Homo sapiens: one gene and its partners. The protein of the gene in region 1 purifies or fractionates together with the protein of each later gene. This does not show direct contact. Each region holds a gene or a part of one and is shown in the gene's direction. Other genes may lie near its edges.

Region 1 (4,521 bases):
GAAAACTGAACCCAGAGAGTGGAAGGTCTGAACATTTATTTTCAGATCAAGAAAGCAGATAATTGTCTTAAAGATACAATCTGAAAAGTGCAAACTATGATTAATATTGATGGTGGTGTCTATACCTTCAATTTATGGTATTTGGTTTGTTAACAGTCCCTTTATGATTACTTGGTCAGTATTGCTATTGTGAATAGAAAACAAAACTCACGAAGATCATTTGTAGACTTACATGTGTGATTACCCATGGAAATGAAACACATTAGAGATAGTTTCATTTAAGTCTTTGAATTCCACTTAAGTGAGTTTAGAGAATTCTAGAATATGATGCCATTGGTGACAGCATTTTTTCCTGTACCCTAAGTGATGTAAAAAACATAGTTATACCAACTTTTTTTTCAAATTAAAAATAAATAGGAAATAAGGTAGTCACAGTGTCTTCTTGCATCATTCTCACTGCAGGATCGGTATTGTTATCTGCTGCTCCATTCAGTTTGAGGGGAAGCCCTCAAATGAGTCAACATTATCTGGACTTGCTTTTCAATTCTTAGCTCTTATTTCCAATAACTTAGAGCCAGGTGTGATGCTGTGATATGACGTGCTATAATGTTGATGTCCAAGTTGTCGTTTTTTGGAGAGGAATTCTGTTATATGTCATTAATACTGGTGACCTATACTTGCAAATATCCAAGCTATAAAGACAGGTAAGGCATCATCTGTGAAGTGTCACTCTTTATAGTGTGCAAATAGAATTTTGAATGTTTGTAGAGGCTCTGCCCTTATCCACGGGCTAGCCATACCTGAAACGTGAGGTTGCAGATCTGCACTGAAGCACTCTGAGGAAACACACTGCAGTGGCTTTTGGGGCTCAGCATTCAGGAGTTTTCAGCATAAGGTGAGTCCCCAAGTTGAGGATGGGGTGAGGGAGGTAACACTGAAAACCAGTAAATATTCTTGTCTGAGTTTTTATTAATTTTATGGATATATAGAAATAGTCCTACAGGAAGCACTGAATATGGCAGCCAAGTTTCTGGATATGGTGCTGGGTAAAAAGGGGATAACGCCGGGAGTCAGTAGCATCCAATGTAGGACATCTGGCATGTGTATAGATGGATAAATATGTATGTTTGAATAGTCATGTAGAGTCGTCAGTGTTAATGAGATAGCTAGTTGTTTTTATGATTTTCAGGAGAGTTTATTGGCATTGGCGGGGGAAACGGAGAGAGGTTGGTTAATGTGTACAAGCATATGGTTAGATGGAAAGAATAAGTTCTAATGTTCAACAGTAGACTAGGGTGACTATAGTTAACAAAAATGTATTGTGTATTTTAAAATAGCTAGAAGAGAGGACTTGAAATGTTCTCAATGCATAGAAATGATAAATACTCGAGGAAATAAATACCCTAAATACCTTCATGTGATCATTACATTCTATGCATGTAACAAAATATTACATGTACCCCATAAAAATATACAAATATTATGTATCAATAAAATTTTAATGAAAAAGTAAACCTCCCCTGGAGAGAGATCCCATTTCTAGTTGGACTGATATTTTGGGTTTGAATCTATTTAGAAGGTAAATACAAATCATGAAAAGTGCTGATTGCAAAGAACCAAAAATAGCCGTGGTTAGGTATTGCTGATATAAATGAATTTTTCTTCTTTAAGGTGGACTTTTGTTTTAGTCGGTACTGAAGAGCTGAATTTTTAGCAGTTCTTGATAGAGTACCCAGGTAAACATAGGTAAGCGAGCCCTTGGTTGTGGCACTGTGGTCTCTGAGCAGTGACTGTTCAAATCTGGAACTCAGTTCCCAAGTGAGCAGTGATACTCTAGAGAAGTCTGGCTTAATATGTAGTACATATTAATAGTAATATGTAAGGAAGCAGGGACTAAATTTACTTGTGAAATAACAGTGTCTTTGAAGGAACCGTAATAACATGTGAAAATGAATAGAATAAATGAAATTGCCTAGATGTCCATGTAAAAAGAGAGAAAAGGCAAGGTTCTAGCACTAGGAGACTTTCTTTCTTTCTTTTTTTTTTATTTCCATAGGTTTTTGGGGAACAGGTGGTGTTTAGTTACATGGATAAGTTCTTTAGTGGTGATTTCTGAGATTTTGGTGCACCCATCACCCAAGCAGTGTACACTGTATTCAATCTGTAGTCTTTTATCCCTCACCCGCCTCCCACCCTTTCCACCCGAGTCCCCAAAGTCCATTGTATCATTCTTATGCCTTTGCTTCCTCATAGCTTCACTCCTACATATGAGTGAGAACATATGATGTTTGGTTTTCCATTCCTGACTTACTTCACTTAGAATAATTGTCTTCAATTCCATCCAGATTGCTGTGAATGCCATTATTTCGTTCCTTTTTGTGGCTGAGTAGTATTCCGTGGTGTGTGTATATATATACAGATAAAAAAATTGTGGTGTACCACAATTTCTTTATCTACTCATTGACTGGTGAGCATTTGGACTGGTTCCTTATGTTTGCAATTGCAAATTTTAGCACTAGGAGACTTTGAAAAAGGAGGGGAAATTGGAACCACTTGCACTCTAATGATTACTGTTATTCCTTATAACATTCTCTTTCCTCTGTTTTTCTTGTATTAGTTTTTGTTCTATATGGTCTACAGATAAGACTTAGTGACTGTTACCTTCTTGTTGATTATCATTCCCACTTGAAATTTTTGTCCTAATGGTACTATAATATGTATGTTTTTATTTTTATTTTTATTTTTATTTATTTTTTTATTTTGAGACAGAGTTTTGCTCTTGTTGCCCAGGCTGGAGTGCAATGGCGCAATCTTGGCTCACTGCAACCTCCACCTCCCAGGTTCAAGTGATTCTCCTGCCTCAGCCTCCTGAGTAGCTGGGATTATAGGCATGCACCACCATGCCTGGCTAATTTTTGTATTTTCAGTAGAGATGGGGTTTCTCCATGTTGGTCAGGCTGGTCTCGAATTCCCAACCTTAGGTGATCTGCCCACCTTGGCCTCCCAAAGTGCTGGGATTACCTGTGTGTTAAATTAAAACTACACTGTTAATTACTATTTCAATAGCTTCTCATCTAGCTAGTTATTAGGTCTTCAAGGATGGTGAACAATATGTATGTAACTCTCTTTTCATACAACCCGTAGACATACAGGTTAACATTAGGTGTTAAACTGAATATTGTTGTCACTTTTTAAATGGATAATTAATGTTTTCTAATGGATTTTAATTAAAAAATTTTGTGTGTATTTTACAGGTGAACTACTGAGTTCTTCATTATGTCTGATGGAGATTATGATTACCTCATCAAGTTTTTAGCTTTGGGAGACTCTGGTGTAGGGAAGACCAGTGTACTTTACCAATATACAGATGGTAAATTTAACTCCAAATTTATCACAACAGTGGGCATTGATTTCAGGGAAAAAAGAGTGGTAAGTTCTATATCCTTCTATGTAAAAATGTAATCGTTAAGTCAACATTTGCTGGTCTGTTTAGTTTACTTTGTAGGAATTAGGAGGACAAAGGTTGGGATCTGAAATTAAAGGTACATATGAAAGTGAGTTATGTTCAATCCAGGCAACATGATTGAAAAGGCTGTGCTGACAGCACTTCATATAAAACCAGGCAGACAAAGTGGAAGTGGACAGTTCTTTAAAATGTCACCTTGGTACTCTTTTGGCTTGTATCTTCCCTCTGAACTCCGAAAGTTATTTGTCTACCTTTGTCTTGAAGCCTGCCAACCACCTTGCCCCTCATACTCTTGTTTTATGGGCTGTGTCTTCCACCTTTGGTATCTTATTATTTTTAATGGCATTTCTCCTAATAAAGTCTCAGCAGTTCCACATGGAACACTAACTGGCAGAACTTATCACTGCTGCCAGGAGGGTGAGGTTGGAGTAGGAGTGGGGAATGCCAGTAGTGAATGTGATGTTCTGCAGAATGTTGAAGGGAGAAACTTTTATTTATTTATTTTTTAAGGACTTTGAGACTGAAAGTTATTCTAGTGTTGGAGGGGAAGGCAGAAGGTCATGGTGTCACAGTTGCAGATGAGGAAAGATGGCTTTCTCCTTAGACTACATTTCTTGTTGAAAAATCCATTGTTGGCCTGAAGCAGGTAAACCAGTTGTCAGGAAATTAATGACAAAGGTCCTTTAATGGATCATATTCTGTCAGGGGGAAAGGTCCCTGGCTTTTAAGACAGAAGAACATTCCCTTTTGCCCATTCTAGTATTTTATTCTACTACCAGAGAGGCTTATAGAGATTAAGACCCACTGAATAACAGTAGGGCCCTAATGAAATTTTTAGTATTGACGTGTAGTTGATAGAATCTACATATATGTATGTGATTATTTTTGTTGGTTACTTATTGTATAACTTAAAAAATAGATTTGTTGAGATATAATTCACAAAAAAAGGAAATCCATCCATCTAAAGTATAAAATTCGGTGGTTTTTAATATATTCGGAGTTGTGTGGCCATCACAGCCATTCAATTTTAGAATAGTTTCATCACTTTAAAAAGA
Region 2 (4,521 bases), on another chromosome or scaffold:
CCAAATTGCTGGGATTCCAGGCGTGAGCCACTGTGTCCAGCCTTGTCTGAAATTTCATTACCAAGTCGGTATTAGAAAATATTTTGAACTAATAAATTAAAATGAAAGCACAACATCTTCATTACCTCTTTTTTTTTTTTTTTGAGATAGTTTCGCTATTGTTGCCCAGGCTGGAGTGCAACGGTGCGAGCTCAGCTCACTGCAACCTGCGCCTCCCGGGTTCAAGCGATTCTCCTGCCTCAGTCTCCCTAGTAGCTGGAATTACAGGTGGATGCCATGACACCCAGATAAGTTTTGTATTTTTAGTAGAGACAGGGTTTCACCATGTTGGTCAAGGCTGGTTTTGAACTGCTGAACTCAGGCAATCCACCCACCTCAGCCTCCCAAAGTGCTGGGATTACAGGCGTGAGCCACCGCACCTGGCGTCATTACCTTATTTAATCTTAATTACCTCCCGAAGATCCCTTCTCCAAATGCAGTCACATTGGGAGTGAGGGCTTCAAAATATGAATTTGAGGGGAACACAATTCAGTCTGTGGCATACCTTAAGAAGCTAGAGGGGAACAGAATAAACCCAAAGTATGCAGAAGAAGGGAAAAAGTAAAGATGAATAAAATAGAAAAATTAATGAAATAAAAGACTTTTCTCTGAAAAGATGAATAAAATGATAACTCACTGGGTGCAGTGGCTCACGCCTGTAATCCAGCACTTTGGGAGGCCAAGGTGGGTGGATCACCTGAGGTCAGAAGTTAGAGACCAGCCTGACCAACATGGTGAAAGCCCGTCTCTACTAAAAATACAAAAATTAGCTGGGCATGGTGGCGAGCGCCTGTAGTCCCAGCTCCTCAGGAGGCTGAGGCAGGAGAATCACTTGAACCCCGGAGGCAGAGGTTGCAGTGAGCCGAGATCGTGCCACTGCACTCCATCCTGGGTGACAGCAAGACTTTGCCTCTAAAGAAGACAAACAAACAAAAAAATGATAACTCTCCAGTCAGACTTATAAAAAGAGAAAAAAGATGTAAATCACCAGTATCAGGAATGAAGGAGTAGACATCAATATAGATCTTACAGATTAAGATAATATTTTGAATAACTTTATGCCAAGAAATTATACAATTTAGATGAAATGGAGAAATATTTTGAGAAACGCAAACTGCTGAAGATCACACAAGAAGAAAAAGAACCTGAATAGCCCCTATTTCTGAAAGAAATTGAAGTCATAGTTAAAAGCCCTCCCACAGAGAAAGCTGTAGGCCCTGGTGGCTTCACTTGTGAATTCTACCAAACATTTAAGGAAGAAATGTTACCAGTTCTACATAAAGTCTTTCAGAAGATAGAAATATCTCTGATCCCAAAGAAAAATCTAAAGAATCTACAAAGTAAGTTGCCACCTTACTGCAACTAAAAAGTTGTAGAGCGTTTAGTGAGGTGATAGGATACAAGGTCAATATGTAAAGACAGTGTATTTCTATGTCCTAGCCACAAACAATTAGAAGTTAAAATGAAAGTATACCTCACTTCAGCTGATTAAGAACAAGAGTATGAATTAAAATTAGACTGCTTGGGGCCAGGTGCGGTGGCTCACACCTGTAATCCCACTTTGGGAGGCCAAGGTGGGCAGATTACGAGGTCAGGAGCTCAAGACCAGACTCACCAACATGGTGAAACCCCGTCTTTACTAAAGATGTAAAAAATTAGCCAGGCGTGGTGGCGTGCGCCTGTAATCCTAGCTACTTGGGAGGCTGAGGCAGGAGAATCGCTTGAACTCAGGAGGCAGAGGTTGCAGAGAGTTGAGATTGTGCCATTGCACTCCAGCCTGGGAGGCAAGATGAGACTCCGTCTCGGAAAAAAAAAGTTAGACTGCTTGGGTATAAATGGGAGCCCTGTCATTGAGTAGATGCATGATTTTTAATAAATTTTTAAATTTCTATGCTTTGGTTTTATTGTTTATAAACAATTGTATAATCACACCTTTGCAGAGTTTGCAAAAAAAACATACACAGAAAGCCTCGATAGCTCAGTGTCTGCCACAGAGCTGAGAGAAACAGATGTCTACTCCCATTTTACAAACAGAGGTAGAGGAAGTGCCTTGCCTGAGGCCAGGGTTGAATTCTGCCTTCACCCATTTTGTCAGCAACACACTGGTGGAGAAGAGAGCTCTGGTGGGCACTGTTCTCTCAGGCAGGCTCAGAAGTGGGCGGGAGCATAGATACAGCTCCCACAGGGCTGTTTCTGCCACAGACATGGACGTCTCGCTGCCTAATGAAGTTCTATGCTGTGGTGGCCACCTCACCTGCATCTTGGGAGAGCCACAAGATTGCAGAGAGGATAGAACAGAGGATCCTGAACTCCAACCCTGTCATGGAAGCTTTTGGTGAGCTTGGGCTCCTTTGCACAGTATCTCAGTCCCATTTCCTCTGGGATTTTCCACCTTCCAGGGAGAGGGACAGTGCTTTGAGACCCTCTCTTGGGTGGGGGTGGAGGATGAGTGTATCCTTCACTGCCTCAGATCCCCAACCTCTCCCTGGTACTCCTTAGCATCATTCTAACAGAGGTCATGTCATTCAGTCCTCTTCCTCGCTCCAGCCTAGGCACACATAACAGTCGTGCTGGAGAAGACCTGGTGGCTTAGCTCGTCCAAATTCTGTCTTTCTATCCAGTTTCCTGATGGTTCAATGAAGGGTACTTGTTAAGGGATACAAGGTGATTAGTGTTTGTGTTGGCACTGGAACCCAGATGTGCCTTCCTGTCTAAAGTCAGTAGTGACAGCTGATTGTTTTTGACCTTTCCCTTCAAAGAAAGGTCCCTGACTGCCTAGGCTTGCTCATTCCAATTTCTTGCCAGGAATTTCTTCTAACTCCCCTGAATCCCACTTGCTAAAGCATGAGGGCCCATTTTCTAGTCCTGTCCCCTATGACATGAAAACCAACAAAGGGGCCTTTAGGTGACTTGAGCACGGGAACATGACCTCCAGAGACCTGCAGCCACCTTGGCTTATGAGGACTCTGCAAACCCAGGGGAGTGAAATAAACATAGGTGTGATCTGTAGGGAATGCGTGTACACTGAGGAATAACAACAGCAGTCGCTTTGGGAAGTTCATCCAGCTCCAGCTGAACAGGTAATAGCTGCTGTTGCCCTGGCTAGTGGGAGGATGGGACTGGGGAGGTTGAAAGTGGCTGGGGCAGTATCTGGCCTGGGCCACCCCTATGGGCAAAAACCCTGCTCCTCCTGGTGCATGCCCTTTACCTCAGGTGTGAGCTCTGAGGGTGATCTTTGCACCTGGAGAACTATAGCTCCTCTCCCCTTGGGGAACCCTGGGGCAGTGCGCTTATTCAGGCCTGGGTTCCTCCTGGCTTTTACTCTTGCTCAGGGACTTCAAGCTAAATTGCCACCTCTTTGGACCATATCCCTGAGCTTGAGGCTGAGACTTCGACTCCTGTCTTGGGGTAGAGCAAAGTGATGTGCAGAGGCCTTGGCCCTGCCCACCTGAGCTAGATGCAGGGGAATATTCCAGGACACCCAAGGACATTCTGAGTGGTCCCCACCCCTCAGTGCCCATTGGCTAAGTGGAAGAGCTTGGCGGGGAGTTGCCAGGTAGCAGGCAATCTGGCACACCCAGATTGCCAGACATGGCTATGGAATGAATGGGCAACTAACGGGCTCTGGCCTGTGTGTGTCCCAGGGCTCAGCAAATGACTGGAGCCGCAGTCCAGACCTACCTCCTAGAGAAAACTCGAGTGGCCTGCCAGGCTTCCAGTGAGAGGAACTTCCACATCTTCTATCAGGTTTGTGCCAAATGGGGCCACAGCCCCCCAGATGCGAGACAGGGATGGGTCCGTGTTTTTCAACCCCCCACTCCCCAGAATGCTCCATACCTGGTTCCTTCACCTAGCTTTTGATGGAGCCACCACTTTATCCTGCAGACTTTACATGCAGCACTTCTGCCTCACACTGCGCCTTGGCTCCCAGCACAGTTGTGGCCTGGGAGTATGTTTTACCTCCTCCATCAGACCAGAAGGTCCTTGAGGCTGGGACTGTATCTCTAGGGTGGAAGCCGTGTCACTCTTATCATTTTAAGGGCTCTCCTAGAATGGCATCTGTCGCTAACAGAACAAGGGCTTCCCTAGAGTTGTGCCTTTTCCATCGGACTGGGAGTCCCCCAAGGCATGGATAGGATATCTCCCTTTCTCTCAAAATCGGAGCATCCTTAGGTGATGGGTATGCCTCCCACGTCAAGACGACGGACTCCCTGGGCAGGAGTTGTCCTTTTTTCACCAGACTGCAGGTTTCCCTAGAGCAAGGTTCTTTTGCATCAGGTTGGAGACATCCAGGGCTATGTTTACGGCATCTTTTGCCCCCATACCTGCCGTGGGCTCTCGGAAGGGACCTCTGAGCCTTGTGATGTTGCTACCAACTCTCCTCTTATCCCAACCCCATGCCTGCCTATGCAGGCCTGGGCTTTTCTCAGACCCCCTACCCAGCCTCCCACCTACCCTTCTCCACAGATTTGCAAAGGAGCC
Region 3 (3,658 bases), on another chromosome or scaffold:
GAGCCCAAAAGCTTTTCTTTCTTACTTTTTTTTGAGACAAAATCTCACTCTGTTGCCCAGGCCGGAGTGCAGTGGCACAACCTCTGCCGCCTGGGTTCAAGCGATTCTCCTGCCTCAGCCTCCCGAGTAGCTGGGATTACAGGTGCCTGCCACCATGCCTGGCTAATTTTCGTAGTTAGAGTAGAGACGGGGTTTCACCATCTTGGCCAGGCTGGTCTTGAACTCCTCACCTCATGATCCACCTGCCTCGGCCTCCCAAAGTGCTGGGATTCCAGGTATGAGCCACCACGCCCGGCCTAAAGCTTTTCTATTAATAATTTCCTGCCTCACCCTCCATCCCCTTCCTCCTCAGACACCTGGATTTCATTAGCATCATGACCTACGATTTTCATGGAGCCTGGCGTGGGACCACAGGCCATCACAGTCCCCTGTTCCGAGGTCAGGAGGATGCAAGTCCTGACAGATTCAGCAACACTGTGAGTTCCCAGAAGGAGGGAGGGCCAGGAGGGGGCCGCAAGACCTGCCATCTGCCAGTGCTCACACACCAATCTCTCTAGCCCTCAGTACAGTCCTGCAAGAGGGGGGTCATGAGGCCCATTCCACAGATAAGGAAACTGAGGCCCAAAGTCTGGGCATGCTGCGTTGCTCTGGGAAGGTGATCTGCAGGGTAAATGGAGTGAGGGCAGGGGGCCGAATGGGGAGAGGCTGGGAGCCGAGGAGGTAGGAGTCATTGTGCCCTCAGAGCCAACCACCTGATTTCTGCATCTGTCAAATAGTAATAGCCCCTTCCTATGCCTCAAAGGATTTTTTTCAAGAATGAAACTGTAAAATTCACTTTAAAGTGACATGATCCGTTCCCGGAGGGACAGGGGAATCCCCAGTGCACCATACACCAATAACCCCTGCTAAGGCAGCAGTATTAATTGCTCAACCTTCCGCACCTGTGCACTAACTGCTCACGTTGTTCCCACCCTACCCCACCCAGGACTATGCTGTGGGGTACATGTTGAGGCTGGGGGCTCCTGCCAGTAAGCTGGTGATGGGCATCCCCACCTTCGGGAGGAGCTTCACTCTGGCTTCTTCTGAGACTGGTGTTGGAGCCCCAATCTCAGGACCGGGAATTCCAGGCCGGTTCACCAAGGAGGCAGGGACCCTTGCCTACTATGAGGTAATGGAGTTGGGGAGAAGGTAGGATTCCCCCACACCACCAGCAGCCCTGGGGAAGGTGATTCCCCACCACGTTCTTGCTTTTTCTCCTTTGGGAATAAAGAAAATGTCCGGTTGCCCCAGCATGCCTGAGGAAGTGGAAGGGAGAGGTTAGGACATTTGTTGCTGAAAATCTCCAGCAGGTACAGGCACATGGGCCTGCACCACTAGGCACCTGGGATAGCCCTCTGGCTATGGGGCTGAGGTCTTCCTTCCAGCCCAGGAAAGAGCAGAGGTCAAGAGGCAGATTTTTTGTTTCACTCTAGCCTCTGCTACTCTGTGTGGCCTTGGGCCTGTCCTCAGTGTCAACCAGCAGGCCTCACATCTCTGTTTAAATGGAAGAAGCTAAGCAGGGCCAAGGCAGCCACCATCTCTGGGTCATTTGCCTCTGGTTTGTATAAACTTGTGTGATGCATGCAGCCTGCAGACCCTGCAGAGAGTGAGGCTGCAGGATGGAGCAGGAGCTAAAAGAGATTTGGAGAGTGGCGTCTCCTGGTGACCTGCAAGGTCTCGGCACGACTCCCCACACTGCCTTTTCCCTGTTATCTGCTCAGATCTGTGACTTCCTCCGCGGAGCCACAGTCCATAGAATCCTCGGCCAGCAGGTCCCCTATGCCACCAAGGGCAACCAGTGGGTAGGATACGACGACCAGGAAAGCGTCAAAAGCAAGGTAGGTTTCCCCAAGGCCACACCTCAGGACAAAGAGAAAGAAGGAGGCCCCGCTCCCAGCAGCCAGATTCCTGTCCCTTGCACTGAGGTCTGGGCTGGGCTCACAGAGCACATGTGCCCTGTACACACTCTGGGTCAGGGAACCCAGCCCTGCTCCTCTGGGCCTCCCCTGCCAGGTGCAGTACCTGAAGGACAGGCAGCTGGCGGGCGCCATGGTATGGGCCCTGGACCTGGATGACTTCCAGGGCTCCTTCTGTGGCCAGGATCTGCGCTTCCCTCTCACCAATGCCATCAAGGATGCACTCGCTGCAACGTAGCCCTCTGTTCTGCACACAGCACGGGGGCCAAGGATGCCCCGTCCCCCTCTGGCTCCAGCTGGCCGGGAGCCTGATCACCTGCCCTGCTGAGTCCCAGGCTGAGCCTCAGTCTCCCTCCCTTGGGGCCTATGCAGAGGTCCACAACACACAGATTTGAGCTCAGCCCTGGTGGGCAGAGAGGTAGGGATGGGGCTGTGGGGATAGTGAGGCATCGCAATGTAAGACTCGGGATTAGTACACACTTGTTGATTAATGGAAATGTTTACAGATCCCCAAGCCTGGCAAGGGAATTTCTTCAACTCCCTGCCCCCCAGCCCTCCTTATCAAAGGACACCATTTTGGCAAGCTCTATCACCAAGGAGCCAAACATCCTACAAGACACAGTGACCATACTAATTATACCCCCTGCAAAGCCCAGCTTGAAACCTTCACTTAGGAACGTAATCGTGTCCCCTATCCTACTTCCCCTTCCTAATTCCACAGCTGCTCAATAAAGTACAAGAGCTTAACAGTGTGTTGGCGCTTTGCTTTGGTCTATCTTTGAGCGCCCACTAGACCCACTGGACTCACCTCCCCCATCTCTTCTGGGTTCCTTCCTCTGAGCCTTGGGACCCCTGAGCTTGCAGAGATGAGGCCGCCATGTCCTCTGCCTAGCCGCAGAGAGCCCCAGTGGGAGGCCAGCGTCCTCAGATTCACCTGCCTTGGACTTAACCCAAGCATGGCTGATGGCCTTCCAAATATTAAAGTCATTGCCATCCAGATTTCTAAATTAAATTCCCTGTTGAAAGAAACGTTTTCTGTTTCCTGAAGGCTAGCAGGCCCTGGGAAAGAAGGCTTTTCATCCCAACACTCCCTCTCTTCTGATCCACAGGAAGGTGGTGGGAGCTCATCACAGGACCAGGTTAGAAAGCCCTGAACCCTGGACCCTCAGGGCCAGCAGGAAATGCAGATGTCATCTCATGCACCCTTCCTGCCTCTCGGGACTGGAGTCCCTGCAGAGTGCTTGAGAGATGGCCCTCCAGCCTCCCAGTGAGGGGCAGCCGATTACCTTGGAAGCAACCCATTCCGTGGCTGGGCTGAAATCTGTCAATAGTCCTAGTGCTGGGCTTAGCCCTTTGTTCTGTTCACCCCTCCCCTAACACTCATCCCTCCACCCATTCAGAGATCAAAGTACCTCTGCTCAAGCTGGCCTGAGATAGGAGGTCGGGAGGATGTGATGGGGTGACTCAGAAGAATAGACAGATTTTCAGCCTTTATGAGGTGGAGACGCTCTCATCAGGCTTCTGTTGAATTCCCAGGGCCCCAGGAATGCCTTTATCCAAAAAGGCTCCAGATACTCACCCCAGAACTAAAGAGAATTGATTTGTGGATTCTCTGATGTTTGGATTATCTGTGACTTAGGATAATCACAAATTGGCCTGATGGTTTGTGACGCCGGTTTGAAGTGGAGGGAAGGAGGAAATAT
Region 4 (4,521 bases), on another chromosome or scaffold:
GGGAGGGGAGGGGAGGGGCAGGGAGAGAAGCCCAGTGCGGGAGGGGAGGGGCAGCAGTAGCTACAAGGCGGGGTGGGGAGGGCAGGGGGAGAGTGCCAGGTGTCCCTCATACCCCTGTCCACTCCTAGGCCTTTGGAAATGCCAAGACCCTCCGGAACGATAACTCCAGCAGGTTCGGGAAGTACATGGATGTGCAGTTTGACTTCAAGGTACCATGGATGTGTGTGTCGTGAGGATTCCCATTCAGTAGGCTCTACACGTGTGAAGCACCTACTGGGTACCAGGGACTATTCCAGGTGCTGCAATTCCAGCAGTCAAACAAAGCAAACAAAAATCCTGCCTTCCAGGGTGATAAACAATAAACAGGGAAATTGAGGCCGTGGCAGAAAATAAAATGCAGTAAGGAGTGGGGGGCAGGTGCGGTCGTATTAGGGTAGGCCTCACTGAGAAAGTGGCATTTTAATAAAGGCTTGACAGCTGGGTAGGGTGGCACATGTCTGTTGTCCCAGCTCCTCTGGAGGCTGAGGCAGGAGGATCACTTGAGGCCAGGAGTCCAAGGTTACCCTAAGCTATGATCATGCCACTGTACTCCAGCTTGGGCTACGGAGTGAGACCCTGTCTCTAAAAAAAATAGAAAATAATGGCTTGATGGAGATAGGAGCAGGCTGTGCAGGTGCCTGTCCAGGCAGCGGGAACGGAACAGCCAGGACAAAGGCCTGAGATACGAGGGTGCTGGAAGTGTTCCAGGACAGCACGGAGGCCACAGCGGCCAGAGAAGAGAGCAGGGGCCCGCGAACAGAGAGAGGCCAAACGGTGCAGGCCCTTTTGGGTTGTTGCAAGAACTTTTTTTTTTTTTTTTTAACTCTGAGTAGAAGGGGAGTCATCGGGCTGGGTGAGGTGGCTCATGCCTGTAATCTGAGCACTTTGGGAGGTTGGGGCAGGTGGATCACGTGAGGTCGGGAGTTCAAGACCAGCCTGGCCAACATGGTGAAACCCTGCCTCTACTGAAAATACAAAAATTAGCCAGGCACGGTGGTGTGTGCCTGTTGTCCCAGCTACTCAGGAGGCTGAGGCAGGAGAATTGCTTGAACCCGGGAGTTCGAGGGTGCAGTGAACTGTGATTGCACTACTGCACTCCAGCCTGGGTGAAAGCAAGACCCTGTCTCCAAAAATAAAAAATAAAAAAATGACTTTAGCTGCTTCACTGGGAGATTGGGAGTAGACGAATAGATGGGAGGGGAACCAGGCTAAGCAGGGAAAACGGTTAGGGGGCTGATGTCATCATGTAGGTGACAGGTGACATTGGCTCAGACCAGTGTGGTGCAGTGGAAGTGGCGAGCAGTGATTGGATTCTGGATGTTTTAAAGGTTAAGGCAGCAGGATGAGCTGCCTGATTGGATGTAGGGTTTGGAGAAACACAGGCTTCCAGGAGGACTGCCAAGTCCTTGGCTTGAACAACGAGAAGGATGTAGTCACCACTGACCAAGGAGGGCAGACACTAACAGGAGCTTGTTTGAAGAGGGAGAAGGTCCGGTGTTGAGCTTCAGGCCTGTTGAATTTGCGATACCTGTCAGGCATCCAGGTGGAGCAGCCAGGTCGTTGGAGTTGAATCTCCCCATTTCCTAGATGAAGTAACTGAGTCCAGCGTGGGTGGCGTGCCTGAGCCGACGCAGCTAGTGGCAGGGCTGGAATTGGCATCCAGGTCTGGCTGCCAAAGCCCAGGAGTGCAGGGGAGAAGAGGGGCAGGTGGGCTCTTTTCCCAGTCCCCGTGACCCGGCCTCATGCCCTGCCCTGCCCACAGGGTGCCCCCGTGGGTGGCCACATCCTCAGTTACCTCCTGGAAAAGTCACGAGTGGTGCACCAGAATCATGGGGAGCGGAACTTCCACATCTTCTACCAGCTGCTGGAGGGGGGCGAGGAGGAGACTCTTCGCAGGCTGGGCTTGGAACGGAACCCCCAGAGCTACCTGTACCTGGTGAAGGTGAGTGGCTGGCAGGGAGGGCAGGTGCCACCCAGGGATCTGGTGCCAGGGCTGGCAACCCAGCTGTGCCCTTCCTCCAGGGCCAGTGTGCCAAAGTCTCCTCCATCAACGACAAGAGTGACTGGAAGGTCGTCAGGAAGGCTCTGACAGTCATTGATTTCACCGAGGATGAAGTGGAGGTGAGGCCTCTTCCGGGACCCTCGCTTTCCTCCTGTCACACCCCCAAAATCTCCTTTTTTTTTTGTTTTTTATTTTTTGAGACGGAGTTTCATTCTTGTTGCCCAGGCTGGAGTGCAGTGGTGCAATCTCAGCTCACTGCAACCTCCGCCTCCTGGGTTCAAGCAATTCTCCTGCCTCAGCCTCCCGAGTAGCTGGGATTACAGGCGCCCGCCACCACGCCCAGCTAATTTTTTGTAGTTTTAGTAGAGACGGAGTTTCACCATGTTGGCCAGCCTGGTCTCGAACTCCCGACCTCAGGTGATCCGCCTGCCTCAGCCTCTCAAAGTGCTGGGATTACAGGCGTGGGCCAGTAATCCCTTTTTTTTTTTTTTTTTTTTTTTTGAGATGGAGTCTCGCTCTTTCGCCCAGGCTGGAGTGCAGTGGTGCGATCTCAGTTCACTGCAACCTCTGCCTCCAGGTTAAAGTGATTCTCATGCCTCAGCCTCCTGAGTAGTTGGGATTACAGACACCTGCCACCACACCTGGCTAATTTTTGTATTTTTAATAATGATGGGGTTTTGCCATGTTGGCTGGGCTGGTCTCGAACTCCTGACCTCAGATGATCCTCCCGCCTCAGCCTCCCAAAGTGCTGGGATTACAGGCGTCAGCCACCGTGCCCATCCCACCCGCAGAATCACCTTCCACCTTTAACACCCATTCCCACTTCCAGCCCCTTCTCTCCGACACTTCACCACCCACCCCTGCATGGCCATCTGCTAGTTGCCCTCTTGGGGCTCTCTGGCCCCTCTCACCCCCTCCTGCCCCCGGCCTGCTCCCCCAGGACCTGCTGAGCATCGTGGCCAGCGTCCTTCATTTGGGCAACATCCACTTTGCTGCCAACGAGGAGAGCAATGCCCAGGTCACCACCGAGAACCAGCTCAAGTATCTGACCAGGGTGAGTGGGGCGGGCAGAGGGCGACGGGAGGACGGCGGGGGCGGGGGCTGGGGGTGCACCCTCACCGTGTCCTCGCCTGCCCTTGGCAGCTCCTCAGCGTGGAAGGCTCGACGCTGCGAGAAGCCCTGACACACAGGAAGATCATCGCCAAGGGGGAGGAGGTGAGGCCGGGCCCTTGCCCTCGGGTGTGGAGGGGCAGCTGTTCCAAGGCAGCCCCTACTCCCATCACTCCCCTTCGCCTGGTTCCCTCAGCAATGCTGGAGGGATGGAAGGAAGGCTGCTCAGAGAAGCAGAGTGAGAGCCGAGCGCCGTGGCTCACGCCTGTAACCCCAGCACTTGGGGAGGCTGAGGTGGGCAGGTCACCTGAGGTCAGGAGTTCGAGACCATCTTGGCCAACATGGTGAAACCCCATCTACTAAGAATACAAAAATTAGCCGGGCATGGTGGCGGGCGCCTGTAATCCCAGCTACTCGGGAGGCTGAGGCAGGAGAATCGCTTGAACCCGGGAGGTGGAGGTTGCAGTGAGCCGAGATCACGGCAACAGAGCTAGACTCTGTCTCAAAAAAAAGAAGCAGCACAGTGAGCTGGCCAGGGTCACATAGGAAGAGAGTAACAGTCCGGCTAGAACCAGACTCCCACCTCGGGAAGGAGGCCTCCTGTCCCTCTACCACCTTCCCTCTGGGGTGGCCACCTGTCCTCCCTGAGGTCCCACTACCAGCACCCCTCCCCATACTGCAGGCTTGCTGGAGCTGGGAGTGCAGAGTGGTGGCGGCTTCCTGGTCTGCCTGAGCCTGGGAGCAGGTGGGATGCACAGGCTCTGTGGCATTCATCTCCTTGTCTCACGCTGCGTCCACAGCTCCTGAGCCCGCTGAACCTGGAGCAGGCCGCGTACGCACGAGACGCCCTCGCCAAGGCTGTGTACAGCCGCACTTTTACCTGGCTCGTCGGGAAGATCAACAGGTCGCTGGCCTCCAAGGTGAGGGCTCGGTCCACACTGCTCCCAAGGCAGAAGGGAGGGCCGTCGGCGAGGCGGGGGGTGCTGCAGGGTGGGGCTGGCACGCGCAGGGGGCCCACGCCTTCGGTTGAATGACTGCCCTAGGACGTGGAGAGCCCCAGCTGGCGGAGCACCACGGTTCTCGGGCTCCTGGATATTTATGGCTTTGAAGTGTTTCAGCATAACAGGTCGGTGCCATCTTTCCCCCGTCTCTCCTCCCGGTCTCCTGTCCTGCTCCCTCTCTTCTGTCCTCCAGCCTCTCATTCCTGCCCTGTGACTCCCCAGCCAGCCGGGGACTGTCTCTGTGTTTCTCACCTCCTGTGCTCAGGGGCGTCGTCCAGCTTTTCCCCTCTCCTGGTCCTGTGTCCCCACTGAGCCACTGTGGGCTCTTCTCCTTCCTTACAGCTTTGAGCAGTTCTGCATCAATTACTG
Region 5 (4,527 bases), on another chromosome or scaffold:
AAATCCAAGTGTATGCTCTTTCTTATTCTCCAGTCTCATTTTTCTTCTCTTCAACTCCTGTCTGGTAATTGAGGAAGCATCCTTGCCTTTTTGCTGGCATCTCCAGGCCTCATTTCTCAAAGTTGCCTGAGAGAGATATGTATAAGTAATAGCTGTTCATTAGAGGGCATCTCCAGGAAAGTGGGCAGAAAGGCTGGTCACAGAGGTAGAGCCCAGCCTTTCCAGCTCTGACTGCCTCAAGGAATAGTCACCTAACTGCCTTTTTCTGCTTCTCATTTTATTTTATTTTATTTTATTTATTTTTGAGGCAAGGTCTTGCTTTGTCATCCAGGCTGGAGTGCAGTGAAACAATCTCAGCTCACTGCAACCTTGAGGCTCAAGTGATCCTCCTGCCTCAGTCTCCTAAGTAGCCGGGACCACAAATGCATGGTACCACTCCCAGTAAATTTTTTTTTTTTGATAGAGTCTCACTATGTTGCCCAGGCTGGTCTTGAACTCTTGTGCTCAAGAGACCCTCCTGCCTCAGCCTATCAAAGTATTGGAATTATGGGCATGAGCCACAACACATGGCCCCTTTCTCTGCTTCTTCATCTGCACTTCTTTAAATTTTATTTATTCATGGTGGCCACATGCCCCATCCTAGATGAGGAATCATGGCATCCTCATTCCTCTTGGCCATATGTGAATCCTCAAAGTCCTCAATCCCTTATCCATTATTCTAAAATCTAAAAGGCTCTAAAGATGAAAATGTTCTGTCCTAAATTTGAGGCTAACTCATTTGGCAGAAAAACTTGGCATGGCCTGGTGTGAGGCTCTTTATGGTCTTTTATTTATCCCACATTAATATTCATACATTTTGCATCAGGCTATTTATGCATTAGACTGCAGAGTGCTGCCCCCAACCTCCTTGGTGGTTTAACATAATATACAGAATTTGCACCTTCCATAATCTGAAACATTCTGAGTTCTGAAACATACCTGGGCCCCAGGTCTTGGATAAGGAATTGTGAAGCCCAGCTCTCTTTTTCAGCCATAGCTGATAGAAAGGGAGGTTGTGTGACCCAGAACCAAACAGTGGAATGTAAGGGGAAATCTTCTTGAGCTTCTAGAGAAAGATCTTGCTCTTAAAATAAAAAGGTAAAGCCCCTACAGAAAGTGGCCTTGCCCCACTCCTTCCTTCCTGCTCAGGGTCTGGGCTGAGGATGTGGCACCTTCTACCTTGTGACCATGAGGAGACAAGATCGAAAGATTAGCTGAGAATGGTGGGGGAAAAAGGGAAACTTTATGAGCCCCCAAAAGAACTCTGGAATCATAAACCATGCTTCTAGTTAAGTAAATACTGAACTTCCTTATTTTTAATCCAGGATTAATTAGTCTTTCTGTGACTTTCCTCCAAATGAGATTGGCCAGGGACAATAAAATGGTGTCTGAACAGGTGACAAGTAGGGCCCTCCCTCAGCCAACAGAGATAAGAAAGAGCATACACTTGGGTTTGGGATAGATGATGGGTGGATTAATTTGTTTGTTAACTGCAAAGTAACCTCTTCCTGATGAAGGATCAAACAAGAAGCCTATAATACCGGCAGACCACAGAAGGCCCAGGTGCTAGCCTTATCGGGTTGCCAAGAAGAAAGGAGAAGGAGAACAAAAAGGCAGGAGGACTCCCTTGGCAGAGATCCAGAGCAAAGGCAGCTGTTGCTTCTCATGAACACTCCAAAGTTTATCACAGTCACCTGTTACCCTAGCTGGCACAGGTCTTTGAAAGTGTGCTGGGAGTGTGTTTACATGTTTGTGTGTGCTTGTATGTTAAAGGTGCCCAGGTTAATACCAGGTGTATTAAAACGCCCTTGCCTGGCTAGTCCTTGTAGACCTTCTCTGAATGTTTTGGTGAATAAATCTGTTCTTCAGCAACCCTACCTGCTTCTCCAAACTGCCTAAAGAGATCCAGTACTGATGACGCTGTTCTTCCATCTTTACTCCCTGGAAACTAACCACGTTGTCTTCTTTCCTTCACCACCACCCAGGAGCTCAGAGATCTAAGCTGCTTTCCATCTTTTCTCCCAGCCCCAGGACACTGACTCTGTACAGGATGGGGCCGTCCTCTTGCCTCCTTCTCATCCTAATCCCCCTTCTCCAGCTGATCAACCCGGGGAGTACTCAGTGTTCCTTAGACTCCGTTATGGATAAGAAGATCAAGGATGTTCTCAACAGTCTAGGTAACTGACTGGGGTAGGGGAAGCGGGGGGTTGACCCTTGCTCATTTCTCCTGTTCTTAAACTCTAGCTTTGTCTCTATCCCATCCCAAGATCCCAACCAAGCCCAACCCCTGATGAGGGCTTTCTACACTACCCTACCCGTGTTTGAAGTCTTGGCTAAAAGCTGAGGTTTTCCTGATGAGGAGGAAGAGGTGGAGGAGAATGGTAGCTGTAATTTATGAACACTCATTATGAACCAGGTATAATCCAAGTTTTACGTAGATTATTTCATTTAATTCCCACAACCATTTTATGAGGTAAGGACAACTATTACTTCTGCTTTAAAAATGAGGAAACTAACCTTAAAAGCTGATGAGTAGGCTGATTCTGGACACAGTGTCACCTCCAAGGTAGAAGACAATTTGGAAGGGGATAAGGGGATTATGGGGAGGATAGCTCATGGGATGTACCCTTTCTTCTTTCCTACTCAGAGTACAGTCCCTCTCCTATAAGCAAGAAGCTCTCGTGTGCTAGTGTCAAAAGCCAAGGCAGACCGTCCTCCTGCCCTGCTGGTGAGTAACTCCCTGAGAGGGAATGGCGACTACGATGCCCTGTATCCTCCCCTGTCCATCTCCCTGCACCTACGTCTTCCCCCATGTCAGGTCTGTATCACCCTGGCACCCTGGGGCTGAGTCATGACTCTTGGTTCCCAGAGACCCCTTGCCCATTCTTGTTTCCCTGAAGGATGCTACTGGGGGATCTTGGGCTTCTGCCTCTTCCTTTCACCCCTTCACTTCATGCCCCTGTTTCTCAGCCCTTCCTCTCCTCCATTGTCCCATAATGATCACATACTTCATTTCTCTTTCCAATCTATTCCTCTGTTTTGATGGGTAGGGGCCAACAGAGAGGTGAATTTATCACAAATCGAAGAAAACTGAAACTCCCAAGTTCCAAGTCTCTCACTTGCATGAGTCTCTTTCATGGCAGCAAATATTTGTTTCTGTGATTTCTGTATTTCTTTTCTTGAAATGAGCTCGCAAAATTGAATGAGCTTGAGGCCCCACGAAACCTAGCTCTACCCCTGACTGCACAGGGTTGAAAGATGGTTGTGGGTAGCCCTTCCTCCTCTTAAATTCCAAGAGCTCTGATGTCTGTGCTTCATGTGCTCATGCAGGGATGGCTGTCACTGGCTGTGCTTGTGGCTATGGCTGTGGTTCGTGGGATGTTCAGCTGGAAACCACCTGCCACTGCCAGTGCAGTGTGGTGGACTGGACCACTGCCCGCTGCTGCCACCTGACCTGACAGGGAGGAGGCTGAGAACTCAGTTTTGTGACCATGACAGTAATGAAACCAGGGTCCCAACCAAGAAATCTAACTCAAACGTCCCACTTCATTTGTTCCATTCCTGATTCTTGGGTAATAAAGACAAACTTTGTACCTCTCTGTGCTTATGTCATCTCTGTTATTGTCCCCAGCTTGGGGCTCCCCTATCCAGAAAATGTTGTCAGTGTCCCAGTGGTGACATCTCAGTTTGGGAAGTGGGATGGGAAGTTAGGAAAGATATGGGAAGAATGGGAAAAACAAACTGACACTCCAAACCCCCACTTCCCTCATTTTTATTTATTTATTTATTTATTTTTTTCTTTTTTTTCATTTTTTTTTTTTTTATTATACTCTAAGTTTTAGGGTACATGTGCACATTGTGCAGGTTAGTTACATATGTATACATGTGCCATGCTGGTGCGCTGCACCCACTAACGTGTCATCTAGCATTAGGTATATCTCCCAATGCTATCCCTCCCCCATCCCCCGACCCCACCACAGTCCCCAGAGTGTGATATTCCCCTTCCTGTGTCCACGTGATCTCATTGTTCAATTCCCACCTATGAGTGAGAATATGCGGTGTTTGGTTTTTTGTTCTTGCGATAGTTTACTGAGAATGATGGTTTCCAATTTCATCCATGTCCCTACAAAGGACATGAACTCATCATTTTTTATGGCTGCATAGTATTCCATGGTGTATATGTGCCACATTTTCTTAATCCAGTCTATCATTGTTGGACATTTGGGTTGGTTCCAAGTCTTTGCTATTGTGAATAGTGCCGCAATAAACATACGTGTGCATGTGTCTTTATAGCAGCATGATTTATAGTCCTTTGGGTATATACCCAGTAATGGGATGGCTGGGTCAAATGGTATTTCTAGTTCTAGATCCCTGAGGAATCGCCACACTGACTTCCACAATGGTTGAACTAGTTTACAGTCCCACCAACAGTGTAAAAGTGTTCCTATTTCTCCACATCCTCTCCAGCACCTGTTGTTTCCTGACTTT
Region 6 (4,521 bases), on another chromosome or scaffold:
CAGCCTACGGGTGTCTCAATGCCTGGTGCAGAAGGTGTGTCGCTGCTGTCCGTCTGTTGTGCTGCTTCCACCTCTCATGTAGTCTCCCGACACTCCATGTCACCCATGCTGCTCCTCAACACACTGAGCTGCTTCCTGGTCCCTGAACTTGCCATGATCTGCCACGCCACGCTTTGTTCCTCTGGCTAGGATGTCCTTCCTCCTTCTGCAGGCCCAGCACTTGTTGACCTAGCTTGGCATCAGCCCTTTGCAGAACTGTCCTCGGCTTCCCCAGGCAGTGCTTTATGTTCTCTTCACACAGTCCTAGAGTGCAGCACTTGAGCTGTATTGCAATTAATTAATTTCCTGTCTGCCTCCCCCACTGGGCTGTGAGCTCACTAGGGGCACCTGTAGTCCTAGTACCCAGCATGAGGCTTGGCATAAAACCTGGGAGAGCCTCGGTGGCTGTTGTTGAATGAAGTAGCGAATGCTCTGCTTGATGGAGAGGTCTGTGGCACTGTCATGTTTTAACTTGGTGTGTGCCCAGGTTTTCTCTCAGGTAGAGAGGACCCCTGTTCCTCTGCAGTGCTGGGGTCGGGGGGTGGTGGCCTTTGTTAGGTGGGGTTCCTGGCTGGCTGGTTGGCAGGCTGGTTGGTCAGGACTCCCTCTCCTGCTGATGTCTGGGCTCTTGTCACCAGATGGGACTGAGTATGGGCTGAGTGAAGCTGACATGGAGGCCTCCTACGCCACAGTGAAGAGCATGGCGGAACAGATAGAGGCCGATGTCATCCTTCTGCGGGAACGGCAAGAAGCTGGGGGCCGCGTGCGTGATTACCTGGTCCGGAAACGAGTAGGAGACAATGACTTCCTGGAGGTCAGGTGAGGAGGCCGCGGGACATTTTGGGGTCCCCATTCTTCACAGAGGTTGGTGACTGAGCCTGTGGCACTTGGCGTGTCAGCTCCATCCTTTCCCCTCCTGAGGCGGGGAAAGAGTGTCCAGGTGTCTGGAGACGTGGGCTCCTTGCTCTAATTCTGCACTTCCCTGTCACTTTGGGAAGAGCACGAGAGAGGCCAGCCGTGCATTCTGTGGCCATTCTCTGTGGGTGTGTTTCTTTTCCCTTCAGCCTGTGAGCCTGGAAACCAGGGTCATGGAGAAGAGCCTTTTGTGCCTCTGGTAGCCTTGCGGCTCTTCCTGGCAGCACCCAGAAGCTAGTGGGAGTTAAGGGAGATAGCCGCTGTGGGAGTCTGGGCCCTTCTGATGACTCTACAGCAGCAGCTCTAGGAACCTTCCCACTGTGCTCCTCCGGCTCAAGGAGGAGCTGTGAGCCGGAGGGGATCGGGGCAAGCCTGGACTTGCGGATCCAATTACTGGGGTTATGATGGTCGCTCCACCTCACTCATTCACTAACTCTCACATAGATGTATGGGTTCATCTACACGCAGGGTAGCAGTGGTGGGCAACGTGGATGCTGGCAAAAGCACGCTTCTGGGGGTCCTGACACATGGGGAGCTGGACAATGGCCGAGGCTTTGCCCGCCAGAAACTCTTCCGCCACAAACATGAAATTGAATCTGGTCGCACCAGCAGTGTGGGCAACGACATTCTGGGCTTTGACAGTGAAGGCAATGTAGTGAACAAGCCTGACAGCCACGGCGGCAGCCTGGAGTGGACCAAGATCTGTGAGAAGTCCACGAAAGTCATTACCTTCATCGACTTGGCTGGTCATGAGAAGTACCTGAAAACCACTGTCTTCGGCATGACAGGCCATCTGCCTGACTTCTGCATGCTCATGGTGAGTGGGAGGCGCCCCAAGGAGGGGAGGCGTCAGCAGGGCTGCTTGGGTCTGGTTATGTGCAAGTCTGAAACTGTTCTGAGACTGAGGCCTGTTGGTTTGGGGCTTTGACATCGGGTGAGGCTGGCGAGTTTTGCAGGGGTGCCCAGTCCTCTGAGTAATGGTCTTCTCAAGGCTTGAACCTTGATCTCTCCCTTACATTAGACTAGGGAAGGTATCCTCTTGGTAAAAACCAGGTACCCTTGAAGACCTGTCTTATTTTTTGCAGAGGCATAGAGGAGGGTTTCTCCTGGGCCTTACTTGTTACCTTCAGAAATGTTTTCTGCAGAGGATTGGGCTACTTTGAGGAGGTGACACCAGGTAGGTAGTACCTTCAGAGGGGCAGGCCTGGGGAAGAAACGGAGAAGACAGCCATAGGAGGCACAGGCCACAGTCGAGAGGCCCTGAGAGGTGGCCTCCTGGAGCCTGGGAGGAGGATCGGCCAGTGCACAGCCCTTGTTGAGAGGCTCCTGTGTGTCTGGTACTATGTGAGGTCTGATGATACAGCAATGAACAGGGCTGTCCAGAGGCTCCCAAAAAGCTTAGGGTCGAGCGTGATTAAATTTTTAAGCAGCTATTCCTGCTCGGAACATTAAAAACAACCAAAAAGTGTTTAAGCAGCTCATCTAATAGATTAACTGAGAAAGAAAGGGAGCAGAGGGCTCTGTGTTGGATCTCATTGCTAAGCTTGCCTTTGTGACCCACTGATCTTCCTCCCTGGACAGACAGTGGGAGTGCTGAGGGGAGCGGCAAGGCCTGTAACCTTGTGCACATCTCCACAGCTTTCACAGCAGGAGTAAGGAAGAGGGAGGGCGGGAAGGGACAGAGTCAGAGACACACATGCCTCGAGTGTTCCCTCGGCAAGGCCTTCCCAAAACCCTTCCCCATTTCTCGATTCCTTCAGCTGCCTGTATTAATAAATGTAGTAAACATAAGCATCTGTTCATAGCAAACTTGATCAAGTTGCTGCACAAACACAGGTTCTCAAGCAAATTCTCCCTAAACTGGAGAGCAGTAAAGAGAGGCAGAGCCGTGTGAACACTCGTAGGCTCTCTGCCTGAGGCTTTTGGGACCTCAGCATGCCTTCATTTCCCATTTCCTTCAATGTTGCAAAGGGCCATGACCAGCTTCTTGACTGGGCTGAGGAAAGCTGCTTGCCAGGAAGGGATCTTAGTGGAAGATCCAGAGGGCGTATTTAGGGGAGTTGTTGGGTTGATATTAAGAAGGGTATAGAAACTGGTTGAGAATAAGCATTTTTCCAGCTGAGCTACAGTGAGTAAGACCAATTAATGGAAATATCTTCACCCTGGACAAAATGTTACATATATATTATCTGACTTTTTGGTTGTGATCCAAATGTTAACCTTTCTGTAGAAAACAATGAAATATTTCATTATAGTCCCATGGCATTTGACTTCTAGGAAAAAATATTTAAAATATATAGAAAACAGCCGTAGAGCACTCTCTTCTCCAGGTTGGGAAGAGCAAAAGCAAGTCTGCATTGGGTTGGAAAGGTGGCCGAAGGGCACAGGAAGACGTCGGGAAGACTGTGGAAGTGTCCTGGTGGAGGGAGAGGGAAGTGCCAGCTGGGGTGACTCATCTAGGAGCCATGGAAACTCAGTGGGCGTCTCCGTGACACACTGGAATGGATAGGGCACTGTGTAAACACATCATGGCAGCTTTTCTTTCAAATTTTCTTCTGGTTTAGTATGGTACAAAATTGTGAAAAGTTTCCTCCCAGAGGCAACCAGTGTTTCCAGTTTCCTGTGTACCTGCCAGAGATATTTTGTACTCAGATCAGCAAATGTGTATATGTTCTCTCCCTCCAATTTTAAACATTCAGAAAAGGTGAAAGAATAGTATAACCAATACCATAAATCCACCACTTAGATTTAGCAATCATTAACATTTTGCCATATTTATGTGTCTATATGGTGGGTACATATGTGTATATATGTTTTTTATTTATTTTAATTTTTTTTTTGAGATGGAGTCTTGCTCTTTCGCCCAGACTGGAGTGCAGTTGTGCAATCTCAGTTCACTTCAGCCTCCGCCTCTTGGGTTCAAATGATTCTCCTGTCTCAGCTTCCCGAGTAGCTGGGATTACAGGCACGTGCCACCACACCCAGCTAATTTTTAGTATTTTTAGTAGAGACGAGGTTTCACTATGTTGGCTAGGCTGGTCTGGAACTCCTGACCTCCAGCAATCTGCCCACCTTGGCCTCCCAAAGTGCTGAGATTATAGGCGTGAGCCACCGTACCCAGCCTGATTTAATATTTTTTAAAGAGACAAAGCCTCACTCTGTTACCCAGGCTAGAGTGCGGTGGTGCGACTGTAGTTCACTATAACCTCAAACTCCTGGGCTCAAGGGATCCTCCCATCTCAGCCTCCCAAGTACCTAGGACCACAGGCGTGCACAACCATGCCTGGCTAATACTAATTTTTTTAGAGACGAGATCTTGCTATGTTGCCAAGGCTGGTCTCAAAACTCTTGGCTTGAAGTAATCATCCCACCTTGGTGCCTCCCAAGGTGCTGGGATTACAGGTGTGAGCCACCGTGCCCAGCCAAGTATATATGTTTAGTTTGGTTTTTTTTTTTTGTGGCTGAATCACTTAAAAATAGTGGACATGTCTTCATCCCAGACAAAGTCACAATGTAGACATTGTGACTTTTCACTGCTAAACACTTCAGCATACAGCTCCTAAAAGT
Region 7 (3,601 bases), on another chromosome or scaffold:
ATATGGAGTACAAAAAAAACAAGTAATTCTGTTGTCTTGATCATTATTTTCTTTAACACAGAGAGCTCATGAAGAGTAAAGTGCCTTAATGTGAATAGAGTAGCTGCATAGAAAGAGTCAGTACATTTCATTAAACTGGAAATACATTCATTAAGCCTGGAAATTCATTTTCTTGAGGGTTAAAACAACAAAGTGTTGTTATGAATTCCAGATTATAGAAACTGAACTTCCAATGTGTTGATTCTTTAGAAAGATTTATTTTCAGGCTTATACTTTCTGTTAGGACTTTTTGTTTTCAAAGAATTCCAGGAAGCCAAGAAAAGCAGTCAGGCTACATAGAACAATTCTTGAAAATTAACAGAAATAATGCAAACACTGTATCTACTTCCAATAATAAGCTGGCAAGTTAATTCATGGTAAAATGTGCTACATTGTTTCCTGTGTTTCTTCAAAGCCAGGGTTTTGTTTCACAGTATAGACATTTGATTTATGTAAGTTTTCTTACCAATATGGGATAGAAATGGCCTGCAGAGTAGTGCATTTGACTGTTACAGCAGCATGTCTGTCAATGCAGGCTGTGTTGTCTGGGGTGTGGGGACCTTGAGCCTGCACCATGCAGGTTGCCAGGAGAAGAAAGAAGAAGGCACAAATACAATACTAAGGTCCATGAAAATAGTGTTTCTCAGCATCACTGCAATTTTCATGTGCATGATGAACCTTTTATTTTTAAATTTTGGAATAATTTTAGATTTACGGAACAGTTGCAGTGAGAGTGCAGAGGCTGCACTTTTCACCCACATTTGTACAAATCATGAGGAATTGGCCCAATCCCCTAGCCTGGGGCCTGGAACATGAGGGTGTCCAACAGATGTTATCACAAGAACTAACAGATCGGAGAGCATGTCAAGTCCTCCAAAGGGTCCTGAGTGGTTCACTTGCATTGATGGTTAACATTGAGCAGACTTACCTACTCTTCATTTTGGACCTTCCATCCTTATTCAGGAGAATTTGACAAAATTAACTTGCATCATTCTTTCTCAAGGAAAATGCAGAGTTCTGCCACTGTCTTCCCCAAAAGGCTTTTACATCAGGCAGCAAACAGGAAATGGGCCTGATGGTGGTCACAAGCTGAGAGTAGGAAGAAAGTCCTTCTGCAGGAAGTTCAGGGCATGTGGGACAGAGATGTGCCCAGCAAGAAAGAGGTGTGGGGTGACCACAGGGAAAGGATGCCTTAGAATGAGAATCTTTGGGGTCTAAAGTTAGGATTCTCTTAATGTTCCAGTGCATTCTACTGTGTAACAGATAGGAGATATCAAGTCTCAGTATATGTCTTTAAAAATCTGACTTGATTTTAGTTAAACATTAATATTTACAAAGTTATTTTAATTGCTAAAATAATCTAGCCTTTTTTGTTGTTGTTGCTGTTTTGTTCACAGGTGAACTTTGGCATGTACCTGATGCATGCATCATTGGATTTATCCTCCCCATGTTTCCTGTCTGTAGGATCTCAGGTGCTCCCTGTGTTGAAAGAGAATGTGGAAGGTCATGATTTACCTGCATCTGAGAAACACCAGGATGTTACCTCCTAAAAAAAATTTTTAGCATAAAGTTTCTCTTTTACAGTGATCTCTATTATTGTTAAGATCTGCAACTTGGTTCAGTAGAACTTGATGTTTTGAATAAGGAGAGCTCTTTTTCTTTAGAGGCAGGGAATGCTCTCACCTGCTTCCTTCTGCCTTTGACTTCTCACCCTGCAAATTTGCACTGGCTGTGCTCAGGAGAGCACTTCTGAGGCCTCAGGAACGAATGCTGCACCCACATCCAGTGAGGCTCCTGTAGGTATTTGAAGTATAATCACTTGTAATCAGATGAAATTTTTAATGAAGTTCACTGGGAAGATTGAACTTACTGCGGGTCCCTATTTTGCCATTTTCTCACATTGTTACTTTGTTTTTAGAGAGCATCTTTGGATCTCTCCAACCCGTTTGTAGTGAGGAAGGGAGTCTATGCCCAGTGATCCTGGGTATGAGAAGGTGCTCCTCTCCTCCCATGTACATGATGGTGTGGGTTTATGCTCAGGGGCCCAGAGGGTAACTTGTGACCACATTCCTTGAGGGGAGTTTCTACCAGAATATTTATATTCTGAGCAAAGGCACAGGCCAGCAATTCCTTTCCTGTTGCTTCCCATCCCTGGCCTCCGTCCTCATCCCCCACTGAGTTGATGCACTGAGGATGGCTCACGAGCCTGAAGTTACACTCAGTGATGGCTGTGCTTATGCAGGTTGTCATCCTCCCCTCCACAAGCCCACAGGATGGTGTTGGTCCATCACCCGAGAGCCTCCAAATCCTATCGAGGGAGGAACTTTGGCATTCAGGAATCCTGTCTGTATCATCTTTGACCACTGCTCCTGCAGCCTCCAGATGAAAATGTCCAGTGAGGAAATCTCATTCTCTAATGAAGTTACCCATCCCGCTGAGTTTCTAAGAAGTTTCTCCCTGTGCGGAGCTTGTGTGTGCCTTATCTGCTTCTGCATGACTTCCAGCCTGGGGTCTTACCCTGTCCTCTGGAGCAATGCAGAGTGAGTACATCCACTCCACATTCATTCTGCTGGCGTCCTTCTGAAGCCTGCTGTCCATGTGTGAACCCAGTCCCTTCATCATCTTCCCCCTGGATGGTTGTATTTTTCCAGTCACTTCTCCCCCAAATGTCTGCCTGCTGCAGCCCACTGCATCTTTTGAAAGCCTGTGCCACCCCATCTCTCCTGCTGCTCAGTTGGAGAGCAGGCTCCAGGCTCAGGCTTCCCTAATGTATCTGTTCAGAGCCTGTGGGATTCAGGGTCAGTTTGTTTCATTATCACATTTGTAGGACTTTGTGTTGTTCCCAGCACTAGGTGAGATTTGAAAGATGAGGTGTGCTCTGTTCTCAAGGATTGTTGAGATGGAGCCTAATGATTGCACACTCACGTGCTGTGAAGAGTTAAGGGTAAAAAGTACAACTCTGACTCTGGTTCCTGAGATCACCGAAAGAAGAGGCAAATGAAGTTAGGTGGGGTGGGGTGGGGTTTATTGTTTTGAACTGTTTATTAAAAACGCAACCTCTTCAAAGACTCAGCACTGCCACATCATATGAGTGGACTTGTCCTCATCAGCTAACTGATAGGAGAACAATGCCCTAAAGTAATGGATTTATCCACCTACTCAGGCCAGTTTCATGCAGGAGGGAACTTTCCAGATGGCACATTGCCCCATTTCCAAGACCTTCCGCTGACAAATGCATCATATTAATTATGATGGAAAACAAGTAAGAAGGCATGCTCTACAAAAATTAGGTCACTTGCCCAGGTGCGGTGGCTCACACCTGTAATTCCAGCACTTTGGGAGGCTGACGTGGGCAGATCATGAGGTCAGGAGATCGAGACCATCCTGGCTAACACGGTGAAACCCCGTCTCTACTAAAATACAAAAAATTAGCTGGGCATGGTGGCATGCACCTGTAGTCCCAGCTACTTGGGAGGCTGAGGCAGGGGAATCGCTTGAACCCGGGAGGCGGAGGTTGCAGTGAGCCGAGATCATGCCACTGCACACCGGCCTGGTGACAGAG

The links.
Region 2: the proteins of RAB27A (region 1) and MYO19 purify together in Homo sapiens (affinity purification with mass spectrometry; one large-scale study listed by BioGRID and IntAct). This does not show direct contact.
Region 3: the proteins of RAB27A (region 1) and CHI3L1 purify together in Homo sapiens (co-immunoprecipitation; one large-scale study listed by IntAct). This does not show direct contact.
Region 4: the proteins of RAB27A (region 1) and MYO1C purify together in Homo sapiens (affinity purification with mass spectrometry; one large-scale study listed by BioGRID and IntAct). This does not show direct contact.
Region 5: the proteins of RAB27A (region 1) and RETNLB purify together in Homo sapiens (affinity purification with mass spectrometry; one large-scale study listed by BioGRID and IntAct). This does not show direct contact.
Region 6: the proteins of RAB27A (region 1) and GTPBP1 purify together in Homo sapiens (affinity purification with mass spectrometry; one large-scale study listed by BioGRID and IntAct). This does not show direct contact.
Region 7: the proteins of RAB27A (region 1) and MOCOS purify together in Homo sapiens (affinity purification with mass spectrometry; one large-scale study listed by BioGRID and IntAct). This does not show direct contact.

What each region holds. Positions count from the first base shown.
Region 1 is NC_000015.10:55,233,690-55,238,210, reverse strand, and holds part of RAB27A (ras-related protein Rab-27A), read left to right. Parts: intron 1-768; exon of another isoform or gene 769-1,746; intron 1,747-3,254; 5' UTR 3,255-3,276; coding exon 3,277-3,429; intron 3,430-4,521. UniProt on the Homo sapiens protein: Small GTPase which cycles between active GTP-bound and inactive GDP-bound states. In its active state, binds to a variety of effector proteins to regulate homeostasis of late endocytic pathway, including endosomal positioning, maturation and secretion.
Region 2 is NC_000017.11:36,513,711-36,518,231, reverse strand, and holds part of MYO19 (unconventional myosin-XIX), read left to right. Parts: intron 1-2,241; coding exon 2,242-2,374; intron 2,375-3,049; coding exon 3,050-3,119; intron 3,120-3,683; coding exon 3,684-3,786; intron 3,787-4,506; coding exon 4,507-4,521. UniProt on the Homo sapiens protein: Actin-based motor molecule with ATPase activity that localizes to the mitochondrion outer membrane. Motor protein that moves towards the plus-end of actin filaments. Required for mitochondrial inheritance during mitosis.
Region 3 is NC_000001.11:203,177,980-203,181,637, reverse strand, and holds the end of CHI3L1 (chitinase-3-like protein 1 precursor), read left to right. Parts: exon of another isoform or gene 1-352; coding exon 353-476; intron 477-985; coding exon 986-1,168; intron 1,169-1,760; coding exon 1,761-1,877; coding exon of another isoform or gene 1,878-2,052; coding exon 2,053-2,193; 3' UTR 2,194-2,707; downstream 2,708-3,658. UniProt on the Homo sapiens protein: Carbohydrate-binding lectin with a preference for chitin. Has no chitinase activity. May play a role in tissue remodeling and in the capacity of cells to respond to and cope with changes in their environment.
Region 4 is NC_000017.11:1,478,166-1,482,686, reverse strand, and holds part of MYO1C (unconventional myosin-Ic), read left to right. Parts: intron 1-128; coding exon 129-209; intron 210-1,801; coding exon 1,802-1,981; intron 1,982-2,061; coding exon 2,062-2,160; intron 2,161-2,981; coding exon 2,982-3,095; intron 3,096-3,184; coding exon 3,185-3,256; intron 3,257-3,951; coding exon 3,952-4,071; intron 4,072-4,194; coding exon 4,195-4,277; intron 4,278-4,494; coding exon 4,495-4,521.
Region 5 is NC_000003.12:108,754,748-108,759,274, reverse strand, and holds RETNLB (resistin-like beta isoform 1 precursor), read left to right. Parts: upstream 1-1,864; 5' UTR 1,865-2,089; coding exon 2,090-2,216; intron 2,217-2,686; coding exon 2,687-2,767; intron 2,768-3,369; coding exon 3,370-3,497; 3' UTR 3,498-3,637; downstream 3,638-4,527. UniProt on the Homo sapiens protein: Probable hormone.
Region 6 is NC_000022.11:38,715,230-38,719,750, forward strand, and holds part of GTPBP1 (GTP-binding protein 1), read left to right. Parts: intron 1-677; coding exon 678-858; intron 859-1,398; coding exon of another isoform or gene 1,399-1,422; coding exon 1,423-1,771; intron 1,772-4,521. UniProt on the Homo sapiens protein: Promotes degradation of target mRNA species. Plays a role in the regulation of circadian mRNA stability. Binds GTP and has GTPase activity.
Region 7 is NC_000018.10:36,267,097-36,270,697, forward strand, and holds part of MOCOS (molybdenum cofactor sulfurase), read left to right. Parts: intron 1-1,436; coding exon 1,437-1,589; 3' UTR 1,590-3,601. UniProt on the Homo sapiens protein: Sulfurates the molybdenum cofactor. Sulfation of molybdenum is essential for xanthine dehydrogenase (XDH) and aldehyde oxidase (ADO) enzymes in which molybdenum cofactor is liganded by 1 oxygen and 1 sulfur atom in active form.